Regions from separate parts of the Homo sapiens genome. Here region 1 is linked to region 2. The links come from fine-mapping of genetic effects on gene expression. A gene starts in region 2. The other region holds a variant in brackets. All regions are shown on one strand. Distances are from middle to middle. Region 1 overlaps MCF2L2 (MCF.2 cell line derived transforming sequence-like 2). Region 2 holds the start of MCF2L2 (MCF.2 cell line derived transforming sequence-like 2).

Evidence for each region. PIP is the estimated chance that this variant, and not a neighbour inherited with it, causes the effect.
Region 1: its variant is the best candidate, but not a certain one, in a credible set for the expression of MCF2L2 in skeletal muscle (GTEx, PIP 0.79).

What each region holds. Positions count from the first base shown.
Region 1 is chr3:183,297,702-183,303,075 of GRCh38, reverse strand. It overlaps MCF2L2 (MCF.2 cell line derived transforming sequence-like 2), which reads left to right. Exons shown (of 30, transcript NM_015078.4): 11 at 2,880-3,071. Among named protein-coding and RNA genes, the nearest start is that of B3GNT5, 47 kb to the right of the region's middle. RefSeq lists an enhancer at 3,901-4,195. The variant G/C (reference allele first, on the strand shown) is at 2,323.
Region 2 is chr3:183,426,033-183,431,406 of GRCh38, reverse strand. It overlaps MCF2L2 (MCF.2 cell line derived transforming sequence-like 2), which reads left to right and starts at 2,788. Exons shown (of 30, transcript NM_015078.4): 1 at 2,788-3,505. The coding sequence starts at 3,430. RefSeq lists a silencer at 2,959-3,038.

The DNA.
Region 1 (5,374 bases), 130 kb after region 2:
ACTACAGGTGTGTGCCACCATGCCTGGCTAATTTTTTGTCTTTTTAGTAGAGATGGGGTTTCACCGTGTTAGCCAGGATGGTCTCGATCTCCTGACCTCATGATCTGCCCGTCTCGGCCTCCCAAAGTGCTGGGATTACTGGTGTGAGCCACCGCGCCCAGCCAGGAGGGAGGAATTCTACATTAAAGTAAATAAAGAAAATAGTTTTTAGATAGAGATAATGCTGTTAAAGAATTAAAGTGTGGGAGAGGGCCTAGGTGACTGGGCGAATAGGTTGTAGAGAATGACTTAAGATATAGTCGCCAGGGAAGCGCTGTGAGGAGGTGACCCAGGAACTCAGCTCTGCATGACCCAGGGAAGAACAATCCAGAGAAGGGTCGAGTCAGGAGCTAGTTTGGTGACCAGCCGTAAGCCGTATCTCTCGGCTGGATTCCTGCAGCAGCCCCTTAATGAGTCTCCCTGCATTTCCTCTTATTCTGGACACTGTACCGGGAGTGGTCCTTTCAAAAACATGATCGAGATCCTCCCTCCAAACCCAGGGGCTTTCCTCTCACCCCGGCTATGGAACCCCCTCTTTCCTCTAGTTAGTCTTCCACTCATTTCCTTCTTGCTCCCTCTGCTGCAGCCACACTGGCCTCCTTCCTGCTACCCAAACTTGTCAAACACGCCTTCACCTCCCAGCCAAGTACTGCACGGCTTGTCCCTGACTTCAGGTCTCAGCTTGTATGCAGAGCGCTCCCAAGACCATGCACACATTTCTTCGAAGATTCACTAGGAGGATTCTGCATGTAGCTGTATTAGAGTTATGATCTATTAAGATGAGAAAGTACTAAGCAAAATTAGCAAAGGAGAAAGGCATGCGAGGTGAAGTCTGGAGGAAACCAGGCACAAGCTTCTTAGAATCCTCTCCTGTGGGAGTCTCACAGGACATACTTCCTGCCCCCGTCTGTGGGTTGTGACAACATGTGTGAAATGTTGTCTACCAGGGGAGCTCATTAGAGACTCAATGCCCAGAGGTTTTATTGGTGGCTGGTCATGTCAGCAGCTTCTGTCTGGCAAGTACCAAGATTTCAGACTCCCAGAAGAAAAAGCAAGTAATCACCATAAACCATACTGTTTGCACAAACAGTTCAGGGATCATGAACCATTCACATCAGGGAATGGAGGAAACCTTCCCAAAAATCTAAGTTCCTAGATGCCAACAAAGGGCCAATCTTAAAATCGGGTCTTTCTTTCTAAGGCTGTAGTGTCAGGCTTTCTTTTCTCTTTTTTTTTTTTTTTTGGAGACAGAGCCTAGCTCTCACCCAGGCTGGAGTGCAGTGGCACGATCTTGGCTCACTGCAACCTCCTCTTCCCAGGTTCAAGCAATTCTCCTGCCTCAGCTTCCAGAGTAGCTGGGACTATCGGCGCATGCTGCCATGCCTGGCTAATTTTTTTTGTTTTAGTAGAGATGGGGTTTCCCTGTGTTGCCGAGGCTGGTCTCCAACTCCTGAACTCAGGCAATCCGCCTGCCTCGGCCTCCCAAAGTGCTAGGATTACAGGCGTGAGCCACCACAGCCCGGCCTAGTCTCAGGCTTTCTATGTGAAGTCTTTTCTGCATAGCTTGAGTACTCCTTCTCAGGGAGACTGTCTCACCATCCGATTTAAAATACTAGCTCCAGCACTCCCTGCCCTCCCCACCATCTAATTTTTCTCCACATACTCATCACTGTCTAAGATACCATATGACCTACACATGCACTTGTTTATTGCCTCTGTCTCCCATTAAAATGTAAGCTTCATTTCATGAGGTGGGGGTTTTTGCCTGCTTTCTTTACCAATGAACTCCCAGCACCTATGACAGTGTTTGGCAAATAGCAGGTTCTCAATAATATGAGAAGGATGAATGAAGGAATGCTTAAACAAACAGGAAAACTTGGCACGTGTGGTTAGAGCGAAGTGTCATGCAGAAAGAGGTAGGAAATGTGATTGAGCAGACAGGGTCAGTGTAGACAGGGCCCTTACAGGCTTTGGGAAAGGGTTTAGACAAGCATATTTCTTTTTTTTTTTTTTTTTTTTTTTGAGATGGAGTCTTGCTCTGTCACCCAGGCTGGAGTGCAGTGGCGCAATCTCAATTCACTGCAATCTCCGCCTCCCGGGTTCAAGCGATTCTCCTGCCTCAGCCTCCTGAGTAGTTGGGATTACAGACACCTACCACCACGCCCATCTAATTTTTGTATTTAGTAGAGACGGGGTTTTTCCACGTTGGTCAGGCGCGTCTTGAACTCCTGACCTCAGGTGATCCGCCCACCTCGGCCTCCCAAAGTGCTGGCATTACAGGTG[G/C]GAGCCACCACGCCCAGCCTAGACAAGCATATTTCTTAAGTGTCATGACCACCTTTGAGTTGTCCAAATCCAATTTTCACCAGTGTTTCAACTTCAGCTCACCCCCCACTCTCCTCAAGGACAGGTGTCAGTCCCTCTTCTTGTTCCTTTAGTTAATAGGGGTATTCAAAATCTCTTATTATGTGCACTCCATGCTTTTCTGCCCTAGAGTTTATTGCAATTGTAATAATTTAACGATTTGTGTAATTTAGTTGATATCTGAATTCTCCATTAATCTGAAAATTTTGGGCTTGTTAACACTATATCCTCGATGTCTAGCCCAGAACTCAACAGGTATTTGAATGAATGACTGCTGTTGTTCAGCATGTGGACAACTCTGGGCCAGGCTTAACTTCCTGGGCCTGGAACCATTCCGAGCTTTCTCAGGTTCTCCAGCCTTCATCCTGGGTTAGCATCTCCACAGCCTCCCTCCAGGCTTGGAGCACACAGTACCAGGCAGCTCTCAGCCTCATGATGCTCTGACTTCTGACGCCTGGCTGTGGGTGTTCACTTTGCAGGAGCCCCTGGAAAAGGCCCAGCTGCTGGCACTGGTTGGGGACCAGCTCATCCAAAGCCACCATTATGCAGCAGATGCCATCAGGCCCCGGTGTGTGGAGCTCAGGCACCTCTGTGACGATTTCATCAATGGAAACAAGAAAAAATGGGACATTTTAGGAAAGTCCTTAGAGTTTCATAGACAGCTGGACAAGGTGAGCAAAACACAGCCAAGAACATGATGTCTGCAAGATTTTCTGTGAAGAAGCTTCCATCATACTCGTCCTCCCTTCCTTGTGTGATTGCTGAGAGGCTTGAGTGCTTTATGTGAAAAGATGTTCGAGAGGCATTAAAAACTGTGCAGATCCTGGGGTGTAGAAGTATACCTGGCACGAAGGTAAAAAGTGCTCTGGCCATCCCACCACATCCCATTAAAGTTAACTGAAGCCCATTTCTATCTGTGTGGAGCCGGACTTTAAGAGTGTGTTTTGGCTTGGCCCTGTGGGAACACTTCTTGATTCCCTTTCAGGTGTACAGAGAACCAAGCACTATATTTGCAGAGTGCTTCCCTCATATAAAGGCAAAGGGTTTTGACTCTTTTTGGAGAAGCTTAAGTAATAACAACCATTTTATACCCCCTACCATGTATCGAGCACCTACTGCATTCCTACCAGGAACATAATTATGTCATCTATTTATAATCCTCAAGACAACCTCTGAGGAAGGTATTAATGGCCTCATTGTGCAGAGGCAGAAACTGATACTCTGCTGGGTCTCAAAATGTAGCACACGAGAATCACCTAGTGAGCTGTTATATGGCAGATTCCCTTATGCACTGCCCTGAAGACTCAGCGTCGATAGGTCTGGAATACTGCCCAGGAACTAGTATTTTAGTAAAGTGTCTAAATGATTCTGGTGCAGGTGGTGCAGGGATGTCACCAAGAAACCCTGGGGTAAATGACTGCCCAAGACCACACATGGTGCACACAGGGGAAGCCAGAATTAAAGTCAGGCCTGCCAGATTCCACACCAAGGCTTCACAGGATAGACAGCAAGGGCGCATGCCAGGGGCCCACAAGGAGAGGGGTGCCCTTTGGAGGTGACCTCTAGGGTATGTTCCCAGTCAGCAGGAGCAGCGGTTTCTGGAGTCTTCCCTGTGAGCTGGTCCCAGGCAGCATGTGGCTGACGGCAATGAGTCAGCATGCTCCATCCCCACAGCTGTTCCTCTTGCATGGCAGGGGGCACCCACCCAGGCGCTTACCTCATCCCATTGCTAAAGGGATTTTAATGTCAATGAAATATAGTTGTTTCAGAAGCAAGTAGCTCCGAAGGGGCTGGTGTGCAGCCTGCTCTGTGTGCTGAGCTCGCTGTGGGATCAGCTGCTGTTTTCCCAACTCCATTTTTGCTCCAGAGATTATAAGCCTGGTGTGTGTGTGTGTGTGTGTGTGTGTGTGCATGTGTGTTTGAGAGAGAGAGAGGGAGACAGAGAGAGAGAGAAAGCAAGTAGCCATAGTAACTCTACAGAAAATCCCAGCCTAATGTTTTTTGCAGATCTGGGCATGATGTGTAAAGAGAAAGTTTTCACAGCATATATCAAAGCATGAGTTCATATTATTGTGGAAATCCAAAAATGTAGGAAGAAAAAGGTTACTCATGGGCACGTACATATCCCACTATCCCCCATCCCTACATAATGGTAATTATTAATTCTGAAATATCTTTATGATTTTTTATTATTCTAAATGTGGTACATATTCACTGTAAATAATCTAGGAAAAAAATAAGACAAAAACTTAAGTTGCCTATCATTTTCCCACTTAGAAAGACAACCACTTTGGCGTGTTGCATTTTGATCTTTTTTCTCTGTATAGTTACTTTATATTGCTTTTCAGGTCACATGGTAAATGGAAATGCAGAGGTATTGGCACTGGAAACTTCTTTTCATATAACTCTTCAGGTAGCATAAGGGCTCCCTGTCTTTCTGTTCAAGTGTCTCAGTGGAGTTCAAAAGAGCAAAGAAAATGAGTCTTTTTTAAAAATTGAATAATTAGAACTCATCACCTATCTAATGTCCTCCCAGCATCCAGAAACTCTTGAGTATCGCTGTGCTGAGTTACAAAGCTTTGCATTCTTGCTTCCTTACGAAAGACAAACGCCAGTAAATGCAAATAGGGATCACCTGGGAATCCAAAGATGAAAGTTGTGTTTTTGTTAAAAGGGACATGCCCTTCTCCCAGGAAATGTAAGGGCCAGGTCTAATGTCTTATTAATCACCCTGTGTTCTGGTAACCAATTCGGATGCAAGAAGAGTGGACTAGCAGGTAAACCCCAAAAGCCATTGATTACATTTCTCTATGGTTAGACCAGCCTAAGAGATATTTAGCTATAAGGCTGGGTGGGTGCAGTGCCTCACACCTGTAATCCCAGCACTTTGGGAGGCCGAGGTGGGAGGATTGCTTGAGCCCAGGAGTTCGAGAGCAGCCTCGGCAACATGGCCAAAACCTGTCTCAAAAAAAGG
Region 2 (5,374 bases):
GATCATAATTAGGAAGGAGAAAAACAGGCAGGGAAGGTGGGAGGGTGGGAAGAAAGAAGACAGAAAGAATGTCAGTGTTCATGAGAACAATGGAGACAATGACCATTTTCTTGGAAGAACAAGGAGGTATGAGCTATTGAACACTATGTGGTCATTTCTTCTTCTTCTTCTTCTTTTTTTCTTTGAGATGGAGTCTCACTCTGTCACCCAGGCTGGAGTGCAGTGGTGCTATATTGGCTCACTGCAACCTCTGCCTCCTGGGTTCAAGCGATTCTCCTGCCTCAGCCTCCTGAGTAGCTGGGATTACAGGCGCCCACCACCGTGCCCGGCTAATTTTTGTATTTTTAGTAGAGATGGGGTTTCGTCATGTTGGCCAGGCTGGTTTCGAACTCCTAATCTCAGATAACCCACCCACCTCGGCCTCTCAAAGTGCTGGGATTACAGGTGTGAGATAATGCACCCAGCCGATCATTTCTTCTTAATTCCAGTTATAGGATTTCAGAGCTGGAAAAGGGAACTTGGAGATCACAGACCCACTTCCTTACTGCCCAGGGGAAGCAGTGAAGGCCCTGAGAGAGTAAGTGTCAGAGATAAGAGCAGAATTAGTTTCTGAGGATAGGCACTGCCTGCTACATCTCACCATAACTTGAGCTCATTTATCTCCATGGAAACCTTTGAGGACTGTGAAAGTACCAAAGATGTGGGCAGCACTCTGAGTGTGATTTATTTCCTTTCTGTTTTCTTTTTGTTCTCATTCTTAATCATAAGCTTCTCCTCCCTCCTTTTCCTCTCCTCCATTCCTTCTCTTCTTCCTTTTCATGTTTCTCACCCATAAGGACCCGGCCTAAGCCAGGAAGCTGAGGTTACTGGATCTTCAAAGTGGCTCTGACACTCCAAGTCCAACATACCCCACATCATTGTCTTCTTTACTAGGCGTTGGTTTCTGCTGACCAAAACTCACAGTTGGCTGTGACTGGGCACCAGGGTTCTGACTACTATCAGTAGGAAACATCTCATTTGGTTCCTTGAAAATTCTTGTGACCCTTGAACGCCGGAAACATAATTCAAAAGCTGCCTCCCCTCCTGCGGATCTTTAACCTTTCTTTTTTTTTTTTTTTTGAGATGGAGTCCCATTCTGTTGCCCAGGCTGGAGTGCAATGGCACGGTCTTGGCTCACTGCAACCTCCGCCTCCTAGGTTCAAGCAATTCTCCTGCCTCAGCCTCCCGAGTAGCTGGGATTACAGGTGCGTGACATCATACCCAGCTAATTTTTGTATTTTTAGTAAAATGGGGTTTCACTATGTTGGCCAGGCTGGTCTTGAATGCCTGACCTTGTGATCCGCTCGCCTTGGTCTCCCAAAGTGCTGGGATTACAGGCGTGGGCCACTACGCCCGGCCTTTTAACCCTTTTTTGAATCTCTTGCAAAAGGTGGTTGTGAAAATGGTTGCTCAGTGGCCGGGCATGATCACTTGAGTCCATGTGTTTGAGACCAGCCTGGGCAATATGGTGAAACTCCATCTCTAAAAACGAAAAAAAAAAAAAAGAAAGAAAAGAAAAAGAAAATCCTTGCTCTGTTTTGCAGGCAGAGTGCAAAGTGCCCAAACTTCACAGGGGGAAGAACCTCTCCACAAATCTCATGACACAGGTGAACTGACCTCGCTTCTCAATCACAGCCCACAATTGTTAGAGAAAGCATTAAAAAGGGCTGGGCGCGGTGGCTCACGCCTGTAATCCCAGCACTTTGGGAGGCCAAGGTGGGCGGATCACGAGGTCAGGAGATCGAGACCATCCTTGGCTAACACGGTGAAACAAACCCCATCTCTACTAAAAAATACAAAAAATTAGCCGGGCGTGGTGGCGGGCGCCTGTAGTCCCAGCTACTCGGGAGGCTGAGGCAGGAGAATGGCGTGAACCCGGGAGGCGGAGCTTGCAGTGAGCTGAGATCGCGCCATTGCACTCCAGCCTGGGCGACAGAGCCAGACTCAGTCTCCAAAAAAAAGAAGAAAAGAGAAAGCATTAAAAAAATACCCTCAGCCCCCTGTGATGGGTGGCTACTCCTAGAATTTGGATCCAGGGTGTTTGCGGCTTGGCTTTTTACATATCGAAGAGGAAAGAGATGGCTGAGAACATCCGCCTGGGTGGTCCCGCCATTCCGCCTGCTGAGTATTCAGGGACTCCCGCTGTAGAAAGGATTGGGGGACAACCTGACCGAATTCGCATTTGCTCAGGCGTTTCCCGTAGCGCTCTGCTGAACTGGGGTTAGTCTTTTGCTGCCAGTCAGAAAGTGTCTGGGCCCAACTAGGGAAACCACGGGATAATGGGCTGATGGGGAGGAGGACCAGCATGGAGGATGTGCCACAGCCCCTCCAGAAGGTAGCACTGGCGTGCCTGACAGGTGACAGACGGAGCAGAGGCAAGGGCGCAGCTGCACGAAGGAAAACGCCCACATAGGGGGTGAGCGCGCCCACGCGTGCTCAGCCTTGTCGGAGCGCAGCCCGGGCGCCGGGCTCCCAGTGCAGGTGTGGCCAGCGGAGGTCAAGAACTGCGTGGAACAACCCCAAGTGGGGGAAAACACACGCCAGCCGCCCCCGGGGTCAGGAGGTGGGGCAAGCAGCGGCGCCTCACCCAGCCTCCCGCTCCGGGTCCTGCCGGATGGCGGCAGCTCTCCGGGCCAGCCCCCTTCTCTCCGCGGCTCCTCCGCAGACACCCGGCGCGGAAGAAGGAGGGGCGGAGACCTGGCCGGCGCGCGTCTGATGATCCGGACCCCGGTGCGACTGGAGCGCCTCAGTCACTGTCTCCCCGCCCCACGGTTCCGAGTAAGGACCGGAGCTCCACTCCGGGGGTGGAGCGCGGGCTCCCCGCAGGGAAAGGTGCGCAGCGTTCCCGACCCCAAAACGAGCGGCGCTTGGGAGCGTGCGTGCCTCCCCGAGAGCCCCGGGCGCCACCCGTGGGCTGGACGAGGTGGGCGCTGGGGCGTGGGGCCGGCGGCGCAGAGAAGCCACGGCCACCTGCCGCCTCCCCTGCACCTGGCGGAGCATCCCTCACTCTACAGTCCCTGGAGGCGGCGCCGGAAACCTGGCGGCCGGGACCGCGATTCTGGAAGCCCCGGAGCTCGCCCGGCCGGAGGAGCCGGGGCGCGGTTCCGGCGAGATTGGCGACTTGCTTCCTTTTGCAGAACGGCCGCTCCTCTCTCGGTCCAGCTGCGACGCTGGGAAAGCGCCAGACTTGGTCTGTCACGGGAGCCCCCGCGGGGCGTGGCGAGGGAGAGCTGGCCTAGGCTGCGAGGGACTCTCGTTTCTTGCCTGGAGAGCCAGGAAGAGGGCGAGGGCAGAGCATCCTTGGGCGGAGATGCCTTTAAAAAATCATCCACCGCAGCGGTAGAAACAGTTTTGTTTGGCTTTATTTATACGGAATGGTTTTTCAGTGAAATGCTGTCTTGCTTAAAAGAAGAGATGCCTCCCCAGGAGCTCACCCGGCGACTGGCCACAGTGATCACTCATGTCGGTAAACGAAGCTTTAATTTTTCCTGCGTTTTATTAATGGCGGGTGAGGATGGTCTCTGGGCTTCATCTGGCTCCTGGCCTCACCCGCTGCCCCGGGGCAGCGCGCTTCCTGGGGGGTTGCCCGGCATCTGGGCCTCGCTGCTCTGGGTCCTGCCTGCGGTGCCCAGCGGGGGGCATCCCTGGGGCGCGCCGCTGGTGGGGGTCGGGGGGCCGAGGCTGGTGCCTTCACCAGGTGGTTGCCGAGTCCGTTGAGCTCCAAACCGAGGGCTGCTGGGCTGTTACCATCCGTTAGCTGCTTCTGACGGGAGTAGGGTGGGTGGGAAGTTATGTTCTGGTTTTGGGGATAGTGAGAAAGGAGAGGGCATAAGAGGAACGAATGCCAGTGCTTTTCAGCAGAAATGATTGCCACGCCACTGAAGGCTTGTTTATAAGAAAGTGCAGGGAGAGGCAGGTTACATGGGAGCGCCCCTGCGCAGCTCGGCCGCTAGGCCTGTTTTACTGTGCTGCCTGGAGGGTTAAGCACACCCCTGATGATCCCCGCGAGAAATCTCTGCAAGCCAAGGAGACTGAGCAATTTTAATCTTCTTCCCTGAGTTGAAAAGAGGAGCAAAACATGCATTGCTTGCTCCTGAAATAAGGGTTGTGATGGAACGTCAGGCCCCACAGACTAAGTAAGGGCAAGAGGACATTGAGACAGTTCCCAGTCAGTTTTTTCTTAGCACTTTCTTCCCCTTGGCCTTCCCTGGACCTCCCTCAGTAAAGACACACATTCAGGTTCAGAACCTCTGGATGTGGGCAACTGGAATTATCGGGATCATTTTCTCTGTTGCTGACTGTGCTTGGAGGTCCTCCCATGAATGCAAATCAGCTTTTATTGATAAAGCCAGGAACTATTTGCCTTGGTTTTCTACACATTTGTGAAAGCTGCTTTCTTGGTACTTGCATGTTAAATGTTGCCTCAATTAGTCCAACGTGTTTGCTGTAATAATCGTGCACATCTCAAATGATACACTTGTGAGGACATACTTTGTAAAGATGATTTATATGGGAAGGCCCAGTTTTGATAATTCAAGTTTAGAAAAAAGTTTCTGGTGCCAATTGTGGGCACTGAACTTTTACGACAAAAGATCAGTAGGATCCTACCAGGTAAGGTTGAATGTGAAATATTGCTGAAGGCAGTGTGAAATAAGAGGAAAAAGAACTTGTAATGAAACAGAATTCGGAATCTGCAATATGATGAAAGTTGAAATGATTGTGCTAAAACCCAGCACAGGCATGAAGTTGTGGTATAGAGAAAGAGCAGTGGACTCGGGGTGTGACCGTCTGGATTTGAATCTTTCCCTGGACAAGTCATTCGACCTCAGGTTGAAAAATAGGAATTTTAATAGTACTTTCCCACTCAGCTCAAAGGCTACTTGTGAAGATAAGTAAGATAATTTGGGTAGAAATACTGTGTACACTGTGATTATACAGACATTTCAGTTATTAGACATATCCCTGGTCCCTCTGTCACGCCACTAAAGATCTTTGGTGGGTTACTGGGCCTCTCTCAGGGCGAAGCCTCCCATCTGTTAAACGAGGGGTTGACCTGGATGATTTTAAAGGTCCCTCCTATTTCTCTGGAGCAGGCTCTTCTTGAAAATCTGGCAGGCAGTATTCCTTGACTAACACTTAGCTGCCTGTGGCGCCCAGGCTATGGTATTTTCTTGCCTACCTTGCTCCCTCCCTCCTTCTATAGACAGCTCCATGCAGGATACACATAGGAATTTGTTGTAGTTTCTCCTTTCAACCTCTAATGACCCTTGGCTTTTGTGTGCTTTGCAAGATTCTGTCTCCTCATACTTAATCTAATAAAACCTGTGAAATGGGT